Linked DNA regions of Homo sapiens: region 1 is linked to region 2. Evidence: fine-mapped expression QTL. Tissue or cell type: breast. Region 2 holds a variant in brackets; the other region holds the start of a gene. All regions are shown on one strand. Distances are from middle to middle.

The links. PIP is the estimated chance that this variant, and not a neighbour inherited with it, causes the effect.
Region 1: it holds the start of C2CD4C, and the variant in region 2 is the best candidate, but not a certain one, in a credible set for the expression of C2CD4C in breast (GTEx, PIP 0.53).

What each region holds. Positions count from the first base shown.
Region 1 is chr19:406,394-412,358 of GRCh38, forward strand. It overlaps C2CD4C (C2 calcium dependent domain containing 4C), which reads right to left and starts at 2,754. Exons shown (of 2, transcript NM_001136263.2): 1 at 2,613-2,754; 2 at 1-2,008. The coding sequence starts at 1,968. The coding sequence ends at 703. LOC124904607 (proline-rich proteoglycan 2-like) reads right to left here. Exons shown (of 2, transcript XM_047439790.1): 1 at 5,736-5,965; 2 at 3,129-5,167. The coding sequence starts at 5,063. The coding sequence ends at 3,900. RefSeq lists enhancers at 1-616, 617-1,497.
Region 2 is chr19:328,594-334,558 of GRCh38, forward strand. It overlaps MIER2 (MIER family member 2), which reads right to left. Exons shown (of 14, transcript NM_017550.3): 3 at 5,807-5,949. Among named protein-coding and RNA genes, the nearest start is that of MIER2, 13 kb to the right of the region's middle. The variant C/A (reference allele first, on the strand shown) is at 3,311.

The sequences.
Region 1 (5,965 bases), 78 kb after region 2:
CGTCTCCTCCCCGCGGACCTCTGCCAAGACCTCCTCTGCTCCGACTGTGGCAGCGGCTGCTCCCTCCGCGCCCACCCTCGTCAGGGCACCCTCGCCTGGCCCCACTCCCCACCGGAGCCTGGGAAGCTGGGGTCTCCCAGAGCCAAGCCTGACCCCTGGGAGGGGGCGTCCCGGGCAGAGCCTGGGCCTGGTGTGGCCGCGAGGCCCTGCTCTCCGCGGGGTGGGAACTGGATGGCGGCAGGCTGTGGGGGAGGAAGACACACGTGCAGTGAAGGAGACTGTGGGCTCCAAGACTTGTCACCTCCCTGTCCACGGCCCCGCCCTGGCCACATGCACGGATTCCTGAACCCCTGAGAACCTCCTTCTAGAACTCTGCGTGAAAGGCGCGAGGCAGTGTGGAGGGGCAAAGGGGGACCCTCTGCCCCGCGAAGTGGCCCCTTCTCTTCCCCCGAGGCCCCTCTCCTCCTCCTCCTCCTCCTCCAAAGGAGAAATTAATTCATGAAAAATAATACTCCAGTCAGCATCGGGTGACCCAGGAAACCCTGCGTCAGCTACAGCATCAGCGCCCAGCCCAGCCTGAGTGTGAGCCCCTCCCCGGCCAGCCCCAGCCCAAGCCAGCGGACCCGCCCGCCAGCACCCGGTGTGGAGGAGAGACCGGGGTCTGCCCTCTGCACCCGAGCGGACAGCGAGCAGGTCCCCGCTCTACAGGAAGGGGAGCAGGGAGGTCAGGGGCAGCTCCTTCTCCCCGAGCAGCGTGTCCCGCTTGAGGCTGCTGCCCTTGTTCACCACCTTGATCCTGAGGGCCAGTTTCCGGACGCTGGCGGGCCCCAGGCCGTCGAAGAAGAAATCCTCGTTGAAGACGGGGCGGCGGCTGTTCTTCACGATGGTGCTGCGCTGCTTCTGCAGCTTGCCCGGCACCAGGCACAGGCCCACGCAGCAGTTGATGCTGCGGGCGTCGCACAGGCGGTCGTAGAGGCCCTCGGCGGCCAGCAGGTGCACCCGCAGGCGGGCCTGGCCGGCCTCGTACTCGGCCAGCAGCCGCACGCTGCCCCGAGGGCCCACGTGGACCGTGTGCTCCCCACGCGCCTGGCCCGACTCGGGGCCAGGTTCCGGGGGTGCCCGGCGGGTCAGGCGGCGCCGGCTCCCGGGGCTGGCGTCCGGGGTGCTGTCGTCCGCAGACAGGGAGCCGTGGCGGCCCACGGAGTGCCGGAGCTGGCTCACCTTGGCCTGGCTGTCCTGGGCGAAACCTTTGAGCAGAGACACGGAGCGGGACAGCAGAGGGGACCCGAAGGGGGAGGACTCGGCCGAGGACCCTGTGTCGCTCTCCCCGCCACTGAAGTAGCGGCCGGGGCTCATGAGGGCCCCGCCAGCCTCCCTGGGGCCCCCATCACCCCCGTTGGCCTTGGCAGCTGCCCGGCGGCGCCCGGCCCCTGGGGAGCCCACCTGGGCCAGAGCCCCGTGCTCACTGTGGAACAGAGACTCCTTGCGCCTCGTGTGGGGGCTCTCAGCCAGCATGGCGAAGCCGTAGGACGTCTGGGCCTTGGGCACCGAGGGCAGGGACATGGCACCCTGGGCCTGGGGGTCGGCGTCAGTGGCCTCCTCGGACAGCCAGTCCTCGGCACTCTCGATCTGGATCACGTGCCGGGTGGCTGCCTTCAGCAGGCTCTTGCTCTCGGCTGCCAGCTTGGCAGGCAGCCGGGGGCTCCGTGGGGTCTGGCGGGGGGCCGCAGAGGCCAGGTTCTGTTCCGACGTGGAGGGGCCCAGCGCGGCCTGTCCCTCGCCCTCCGCGGGGCCCGAGGGCAGCTTGGGGGGGATGAAAAAGTCGGGGATCTTGTCGGGCGTCAACACATTGCTGTACAGGGGCCCCTTGGAGGCCTTGTCCCCCGCCTCACTCCCCACGCCCCGGGCAGCACCGTTTTCCCCAGACCCCCGAAGCCGCTCCAAGAACCACATGTTGGTTTTTCTCATGGGGGCGGCAGGCAAGAGGCCCGGACAGGGGCTGCAGCGTCTGGGAAGAGAAGCAGGGGTCAGGAGCAGTGGGGGGCGGCTGGCAGAGGGCCCTGGGCACCTGCTCCCTGTGGGGCCTCCCGGCAGGGCCCTGCCGGCGGGGTGGGGGTGGAGGGGTCCCCTGGGGGCGTCCCGCCCAGGCGCGGCGGCCCAGGACAGGAGTGAGGCGGGTTCCCCCCACCTTTTTCCGGAGAGATCCCGCTTAACTTCCCAGCACCAAGCCCAGGGGCGTGGGGGCCGCGCTCTGACTCTCCGGGGAGCTCCCAGAGGAGACTGGCCCCTCGCCCGCCCCCACTCTGGTTTTGAGCATCTCAGCGCTCATTCCAAAGGGTTCCGCGCTCAGTCCCAGGGGAAGACACGGATGTGGGTGGACCCCCGGGGTGTCCCAGCTCCGCCCCCCCGGCTCCCACCCACCTGTGGCTCCTCCCTGGACCGGAGGGCCAGGCGTTCGGGGTGGGGGAAGGGAGGGGCGGTAGGTCTGGGGCCGAGAGAGCAGCGAGTCGACTCCCCGGTGTCCCCCCGCCCCCAGCCCTCCCCGACTCCGCTTGGGGTGGGGGGTGGGGTCCCGGCGGTCCCCGCAGACCGGGCGGGGTCCCCGGACTTACCTGCCCGGGGTGATGGCCCGAGGCCGGAGGTCTGTTCGCAGACACGCAGGGGTCTCGGCGCGCAGGCTCCCGGGGCTGGCGCGGGGGACGCGGCCGGAGCTTCGATGCGGGCGGCGGCGGCGGCGGCAGCGCAGTCGGACTCATTCACCCGCGGCGGGAAACCGCCCAGCCCCGCCGCCGCCGCCGCCGTATTCCTCCGAGTACGGCCGCCCGCGCCCGCGCCCGCGCCCCCGCCCCCGCGGGAAGGGGGTGGGGCCGTCTCCCCGCAGCCCCCGGAGGCTGGTGGCAGGGAGGAGCCTCGCCAGGGCCCGGGGGCTGACTGGGGGCCGGTGGGAGACAAGCAGGTGGTCACGGTTGGCTGACGGCCACCCCCGGCGCTCACGCCCGCAGATTCCGGGAAGTCGGACTCCCAAGCCCCTGCCTCCGTATACCGGAAGAGGGTCCCAGACCCCCTACTCGCTGCCGGCGAGGAGCTTTCCCGACTAACGACGACGAATTAAATGACGGCAACAGTAATAAATGCAGCTGGGTTTATGATGGAGCGTTTCCTCCCTGCCAGCCTCCCAGCGTCCTGGCGGGTCTCTGACTCTCACACAACCCAGTACGCAGGTCCTACTGCAATTCTCAATCTGTAGATGAGGAAGGTGGGGGGTTTCCTTCCAGAAACAAGGACCGAACAGCTAGGACAGCAGGTCTTACTAAATGGGCAACCTCTCAGCAGCCCTACAAGAAGCCTGGAAGGGGGGGGCTCCTTCATTTCATGGACAAACGTTTCCTGAGCACCCGCTTGATGCTGGACAGTGACCTGGCCACCGGGGACACAGCTGGGACGGAGGGAGGTGGCCCCAGCCCTGGTGATGCAGGGGCAGGATGCCCACAGAGCGTACAGGTGCAGCTTAGAACTGCAGGGGTGGTGACGCCCGGAACAGGAATACAGCAGGAAAGCGTGAGGGTCGGGGCGAAGAGAGAAGGCACATGCGTGTGATTCACGGATGGAGAAACCCATAGGGGGCAAGACCAGGTCCAAACCCAGGCTTCCTGGCAGTTCCTGAGACCACAGGGTCCCCCCCTCCTGAGGCCCCGACCCCCCTCCTGCCAGCTGCTTCGTGATCTGCCAGCCCCGGCCTTCACTGCTTCCTTCTCTCCCTCCCTCCCTGCCCTCCCCGCCTCAGTTTCCTCTTCTGGAACCGAGCTGAGCAGTTCCCAGCCTCCTCGTGCTTGGAGCCAGCAAGATAACATATCCCCAGGACCAACCCGGAGCCGGCGGACGCCTGGCGCTTTATTGAATTATTGATTGTCCAGGAGCCTCCTGCATTCTGGGAATGTCCCCAAGTCTGGATGTGGCCCAAGCTGGGAGGAGCGGCTGCTGCCACAGTGGTAGAAGAGGGGTCCAGGAGGGCGAGAGAGCTGGGCTGAGGCCTCCCCACTCTCCACGTACCCTTGCAATAAGGGGTTAGAGTCCTGCCGTCCAGAGGGGAAAGTGAAACCCGGAGGAGCTGTGACCCCATCTAAGCTTTGCTCACCCAGCAAACGTTGATGAGCCCTCATTTTTGTGCTGGGGCAACCGCGACGCAGCCCCGAAGTCTGACAAGGAGGCAGACACCGAGGAATTCTCCCCTTCACCGCCGCCGCCTCCAGGAAGCCTGGGCAGGCCCCACCACAGACTAGCAGGGCCCCCGAACCCCAGCTCCAGCTGCCATGCAGAATACCCTTGGGCTGCTGTCCACCACCCCTGCTGGGCCTGAGGCGGGAGGAGGGTCCTGGGGGTCTGTCCACTGCCCCTGCTGGGCCCGGATCCTGGGGATCTGTCCACCGCCCCTGCTGGGCACGGATCCTGGGGGTCTGTCCACCGTCACTGCTGGGCCCGGATCCTGGGGGTCTGTCCACCGCCCCTGCTGGGCCCGGATCCTGGGGGTCTGTCCACCGCCCCTGCTGGGCCCGGATCCTGGGGGTCTGTCCACCGCCCCTGCTGGGCCCGGATCCTGGGGGTCTGTCCACCGCCCCTGCTGGGCCCGGATCCTGGGGGTCTGTCCACCGCCCCTGCTGGGCCCGGATCCTGGGGGTCTGTCCACCGCCCCTGCTGGGCACGGATCCTGGGGGTCTGTCCACCGCCCCTGCTGGGCCCGGATCCTGGGGGTCTGTCCACCGCCCCTGCTGGGCCCGGATCCTGGGGGTCTGTCCACCGCCCCTGCTGGGCCCGGATCCTGGGGGTCTGTCCACCGTCTCTGCTGGGCCCGGATCCTGGGGGTCTGTCCACCGCCCCTGCTGGGCCCGGATCCTGGGGGTCTGTCCACCGTCTCTGCTGGGCCCGGATCCTGGGGGTCTGTCCACCGTCTCTGCTGGGCCCGAGCCGGGAGGAGGGTCCTGGAGGTCCTGTCCCTGTAGTGGCCCCAAGGCACAGGCCAGCCATGTCTCCAGTAAACATTTGCCAAACAAATGGGTGAATAGCATCGCCACGATGGCCCCGAAACAGTGCTCTTTCAGCAGGCCCGAGGAGAGGGGGCCTCAGGGGCCACAGAGCCACCCTCCTCCATTGCAGACAAGGACAGCAGGGCCTGGGGAGGGAAGCGGACAGCTTGGGTCCTAGGAAGGGGCAGTGACGGGTCTCCTGACATCAGGCCAGCCCCAGGTATTGGGGGTTCGCTCTCCGGCACCCCTGCCCAGCCCAGGTGGGGGCAGAGCCTCTCCTGCCAGCTGGGTTGGGGGATGAGGCACTGAGTTTACACTATGCCTGTCTCCATGCTAGGACACAAATCCAGAGCTGGTCAATCAGGGCTTGAATCCTGGTGCCAACCCTTCCCACTGTGTGACGCTGGACAAGCATCCAGACCTCTGTCTCTTCAGCAGCCCAGGGCACCACGGCTCTCGAGGGAGGGCTCAACAGATCACTATGTGCAAAGTGCCTACAGCACCCCACCATGTGTGCGAGGCAGGCGTCAGTCGCCCTCTCCCTCAGACGCTTCTGCAGGTCAGGAAGGGTCTCAACCAGGGGGGAGCTGGCCCAGACCTCAAAGTGCACCCCAGAGCCCTGACCCCACCACAGCCTGGCTTGGCCAGAAGCCCCACCCCATCCCCACATCCTATCACATTTGGGGGCTGGGGAAACATAGGCCTGAAAAGTACCTGGGATGGGTCCTAACACCTGCCCTGTGGACGGACGCAGACCCCACCCTGGGTGGGGCAGGGGCAGGGAGCCCGGGGCCTTCTGGCTGCTTAGCTCTGCACCATCGGTAAGTAAACAGGAGCCTCTCCTGGTCAACAGAACCTTCTGCTTCCCTCTGCAGCAGCCTCGCTGCAGCCCTCCAGGATGGGAGACCAGGATGCTGCAGATTCGGGCTCAAGCTGGAGGAGGG
Region 2 (5,965 bases):
AAAAATTAGCTGTGCTTGGTGGCATCCACCTGTAGTCTCAGCTACTCAAGAGGCTGAAGCACGAGAATCACTTGTACTCGGGAGATGGAGGTTGCAGTGAGCCAAGATCACACCACTGCACTCCAGCCTGGGTGGCAGAGTGAGAATCTGTCTCAAAATAAAAAAAAAGAAGAAAACTATGTAAACGGATGCTTCATCAATATAATGGAGAAGCTGTCAATTCACACTCAGTCAAAAATGGGTAACCAGAGCAGCCCCCATCACGATCTGGAACAAGAGCACTGTGATTAACGAACACTGTTTTGATGCTCTGAGCCAATGTAATATGACAAGAAGTATAAATAAGGCACGTAATTCCTGGGAAGGAAGAGATGCGAACTATCAACATCATGCTCTCCAGTGCTGCTTTCAAATCCTTCTGTCCTCCCTTGTGTGAGCCTCTATTCCACAGAGGCTAGTCCTGTCTGCTCAGACTCCACGCTGATCCCTGTGGGTCACTTTCAGCTTCCAACTTCCGGAACACTCCCTCTCATTCTCTCAAGATGTTAGCACTGGCCTCCCCTCCACCCCAGCTCCTGCCCAGACTCAACCTGGGGGCTTCAAGTCCACATAGAAACCTCCCAGCCTAGTCCCAGCCCTTCTCCAGGTGGAATATCTACACTGAGTCCCCCTTTTGTTCTCTCACAGGACCCCGTGGAAAGAACAGATTCTGTATGTCCATTACCTTCAGGATTATGAAGGTGGGAAGGTTGACACAGTGGTCCAGAGGCCCTTGGGTTGCCTGAACCTCTCCATAGTAGCCCAAGGTGAAGACCCTTTCCTAAGAGCACTCAGCCGTGACTTCCATTTTTGGCTTCATTGAGGCTTGCACTGATAGTGCAGCATTGGCAGCCGGCAAGAGCCCAGTGCCCGTGGAAGCTGCAGCCAGTGCATCCCTGCCCACAAGTCACTGCTGTCACATTCCTCACAGACCAAAAGCAAACACCCCAGCTTCACTTCAGAAGATGCTGGACAGCCGGGCAGGATGGCTCATGCCTGTAATCCCAGCACTTTGGGAGGCTGAGGCAGGCGGATCACGAGATCAGGAGTTTGAGACCAGCCTAACTAACATGGAGAAACCCTGTCTCTACTAAAATACAAAAATTAGCTGGGGATGGTGGTGGGTTCCTGTAATCCCAGGGAGAATCGCTTGAACCTAGGAGGCAGAGGTTGCAGTGAGCCGACATTGTGCTACTGCACTCCAGCCTAGGTGACGAGAGCAATACTCCGTCTCAAAAAAAAAAAAAAAAAAAAAGAAGATGCTGGACAAAGTGAGCATTTTGTTAAGTCTCACCCTGAGCAGATGTTTCCATGTGCTGTGAGGGCGTGGGAAGCATGCAGAATGCACCTGCTGCATACCAAAGTGAGGTGGTTCCTTCAAGGAACCACATGCATGGAACGAGTGGTGAGACGAAGAGGCTGTTCCTGGTCGTTTCACCTGAAAGAATGCTGGCCAACTATAGCCACTCAGAAAGGCACCTGGCAGGCGCTGCCTTGTATGCAAGCCAGGGGGGCTGTTACTGCAAAGGAAACAGCTGACCATAACTGCTGCAATGGTAAAACTCAAGATTTTGAAAAACTTGGGTTTGACAACATGAACTTGCCGAATTTCTAATATTTAAAAAACTTACAGGCCAGGCACGGTGGCTCACGCCTGTAATCCCAGCACTTTGGAAGGCCGAGGCGGGCGGATCACGAGGTCAGGAGATTGAGACCATCCTGGCGAACATGATGAAACCCCGTCTCTACTAAAAAAAATACAAAAAATTAGCCAGGCAAGGTGGCAGGTGCCTGTAGTCCCAGTTACTCGGGAGGCTGAGGGAGGAGAATGGCATGAACCTGGGAGGCGGAGCTTGCAGTGAGCCAAGATCGCGCCACTGCACTCCAGCCTGGGCGACAGCGAGACCCTGTCTCAAAAAAAAGAAAAAAAAAAAAAAAAAACTTATGATAAGGCTGGTGGTGATATCAACTGTTACAGTCAACCCTAAGCCCCAACATGACTATATTTGGAGACGGGGCATTTACAGAGGTAATTAAGGTTCAAGGAGGCCGTGAGGGTGGGGCCCTGATCCAACAGGATTAGTGTCCTTTCAAGAAAAACACCAGAAGGCTCCCTCTTGTTCTCTATCCACCATGTGAGGACACAGCAAGCCAAGAAGAGAGCCGGCACCAGAACCCACTCTGCTGGACCTTGATCATGGACCTTTCTGCCTCTTGACCTGTGAGGTTCACTGATACGGTCTCAGATTCCACTCCACAACTACTCTCTACAAAACTATCACTTGATGGGTTTTGCTGTAGCATCAAAGAAGAATACCCACAATTATCCGAAAAGCTGTGAAATACTCCTACCTTTTTCAACCACAGATCTGGCTGAGGCTGTATTTTAACTTCAGCCATAAGAGCCTATCACAACAGATCAATGTCTCCCTTAAAAGACAGAAACTGACCAGGCGTGGCTCATGCCTGTAATCCAAGCATTTTGGGAGGCTGAGATGGCAGGATCAACTTGAGGTCAGGAGTTCGAGACCAGCCTGGCCAACATGGTAAAACCTCGTCTCTACTAAAAATACAAGTTAGCCAGGCATGGTGGTGGGCACCTGTAGTCCCAGCTACTCAGGAGGCTAAGGCACGAGAATCACTTGAACCCAAGAGGTAGAGGTTCCAGTGAGCCCAGATTGCACCACTGAACTCCAGTCTGGGCAACAGAGTGAGACTCTGTCCCCAGAAAAAAAAAAAAAAGACAGAAACTGGGTCAGGTACAGTGGCTCACACCTATACTCCCAACACTTTGGGAGACCTAGGTAGAAAAATTGCTTGAGGCCAACAGTTTGAGACCAACCCTAGCAACATAGCAAGAACTCCACAAAGAAATAAAATAAAAACGTTGGTGAGGTGTGGTGGCGTGCGACTATAGTCCCAGTTATTCAGGAGGCTGAGGCAGGAGCATCCCTTGAGCCCAGGAGTTCGAGGCTGCAGTAAACTATGATTGCACCACTGCACTCCAGCCTAGGCAAAAGTGAGATCCAGTCTCAAAAAAATAAATAAATGTTTTAAAGACAGAAGCTTGGCCAGGCGTGGTGGCTCATGCCTGTAATCCAGCACTTTGGGAGGCCGAGGTGGGCAGATCACAAGGTCAAGAGTTTGAGACCAGCCTGTCCAACATGATGAAACCCCGTCTCTGCTAAAAATACAAAAATTTGCCGGGCGTGGTGGCATGCACCTGTGGTCCCAGCTACTCGGGAGGCTGAGGTAGGAGAATCACTTGAGC[C/A]CAGGAGGCGGAGGATGCAGTGAGCCAAGATCACACCACTGCACTCCAGCCTGGGAAACAGAGCAAGACTCCATCTCAAAAAAATAAAAAGACAGAAGCTGGATTTTCATATTTGCTTCTACATTCAAAGAGATATGGAAAACTAAAAATTCAGTCTTCTAATTTTTTTTCTTTTGGGACAGTTCTTTTTATTTTCATAAAAATATTTATATTAACATGTCACTGATTTATTCAGCCTCCTGAGTAGCTAGGACTACAGACGTGCACCACCACGCCTGGCAATTTTCGTATTCTTTTTTTTTCTTGAGATGGAGTTTCACTGTGTCACTCAGGCTGGACTGCAGTGGCACATCTCAGCTCATTTTAAAATGAGTTAGCGAATAAGTATTTTTACATGTCAATTTTTTTTGTTTTTTTGAGACACAGTCTTGCTCTGTCCCCCAGGCTAGAGTGCAATGGCCTGATCTCGGCTCACTGCAACCTCCGCCTCCTGGGTTCAAGCGATTCTCCTGCCTCAGCCCTTTGAGTGCTGGGATTACAGGCGCCTGCTACCACGCCCGGCTAATTTTTGTATTTTTAGTAGAGACGGGGTTTCACCATGTTGGCCAGCCTGATCTAGAACTCCTGACCTCAGGTGATCCACCTGCCTCAGCCTCCCAAAGTGCTGGGATTACAAGCATGAGCCACCGCGCCCAACAATTTTTGTATTTTTAGTACAGACAGGGTTTCACTACGTTGGCCAGGCTAGGCTCAAACTCCTGACCTCATGATCCGCCTACCTCGGCCTCCCAAAGTGCTGGGATTACAGGCATGAGCCACTGCATCCGGCCAATTTACATGTCAGTTTTAACTTTTCATGTAATAAAAAAGCAATAGATAAAGCACATTAACAAAGCTCCTTGAAACTCTAATTTTTTTTAATTTTTTTTTTTGAGACAGGGTCTCACTCTGTCGCCCAGGCTGGAGTGCAATGGCGTGATCTCGGCTCACCGCAACCTCCGCCTCCCAGGTTCAAGGGATTCTCCTGCCTCAGCCTCCCGAGTAGCTGGGACTATAGACGTGCACCACCACGCCTGGCTAATTTTGTATTCTTTTTTTTCTTTTTTGGAGACGGAGTCTCGCTGTGTCACCCAGGCTGGAGTGCAGTGGCACGATCTCAGCTCACTGCAAGCTCCGTCTCCCGGGTTCACGTCATTCTCCCGCCTCAGCCTCCCGAGTAGCTGGGACTACAGTCACCCGCCACTATGCCCGGCTAATTTTGTTTTTGTATTTTTAGTAGAGACGGGGTTTCACCATGTTGGCCAGCCTGATCTAGAACTCCTGACCTCAGGTGATCCACCTGCCTCAGCCTCCCAAAGTGCTGGGATTACAAGCATGAGCCACCGCGCCCAACAATTTTTGTATTTTTAGTACAGACAGGGTTTCACTACGTTGGCCAGGCTAGGCTCAAACTCCTGACCTCATGATCCGCCTACCTCGGCCTCCCAAAGTGCTGGGATTACAGGCATGAGCCACTGCATCCGGCCAATTTACATGTCAGTTTTAACTTTTCATGTAATAAAAAAGCAATAGATAAAGCACATTAACAAAGCTCCTTGAAACTCTAATTTTTTTTAATTTTTTTTTTTGAGACAGGGTCTCACTCTGTCGCCCAGGCTGGAGTGCAATGGCGTGATCTCGGCTCACCGCAACCTCCGCCTCCCAGGTTCAAGGGATTCTCCTGCCTCAGCCTCCCGAGTAGCTGGGACTATAGACGTGCACCACCACGCCTGGCTAATTTTGTATTCTTTTTTTTCTTTTTTGGAGACGGAGTCTCGCTGTGTCACCCAGGCTGGAGTGCAGTGGCACGATCTCAGCTCACTGCAAGCTCCGTCTCCCGGGTTCACGTCATTCTCCCGCCTCAGCCTCCCGAGTAGCTGGGACTACAGTCACCCGCCACTATGCCCGGCTAATTTTGTTTTTGTATTTTTAGTAGAGACAGGGTTTCACCGTGTTAGCCAGGACGGTCTCGATCTCCTGACCTTGTGATCCGCGCACCTCGGCCTCCCAAAGTGCTGGGATTACAGGTGTGAGCCACCGCGCCCGACAATTTTGTATTCTTAGTAGAGATGGGGTTTCACCATGTTGGCCAAGCTGGTCTCGAACTCCTGATCTCAAGTGATCCACCCGCCTCAGCCTCCCAAAGTGCTGGGATTACAAGCGTGAGCCACTGCACCCAGCCTGAAACTCTCAATAATTTTTAAGAGTACAAAGCAGGTTCTGAGACCAGAAGATTTGAGAGCAGCTGGCTTAATCCTTGACCACCGTGCTGCTCAGAGAGCCCCATGAAAGACCTGGTCTCCACTGAATTTCAGCTACTAGGACAGCATCTGGCACTTTGCAAAAAGATGTACAATTTAGCACTTACCAATGTGGAATCTGAGCTGCACAAAACTCATGAGGCTTACCCCGGAGGGCTCCACCCAACACAGGGGCAGGATCACCTTGGCCAAGTACCTGGGAGATGAAGTCCTTCTCCAGCTCCTCCTTGGGCTTGTCTGGGCACCTCGAGGCCTCCTCGCACTCCCCCCTAACACTGTAGTTCTGTGACAGGATCTCTGCGAGGTTGAACTGATGGTCTCCAGAGCCCATGGACACCACTGGGGAGAAGAGAGC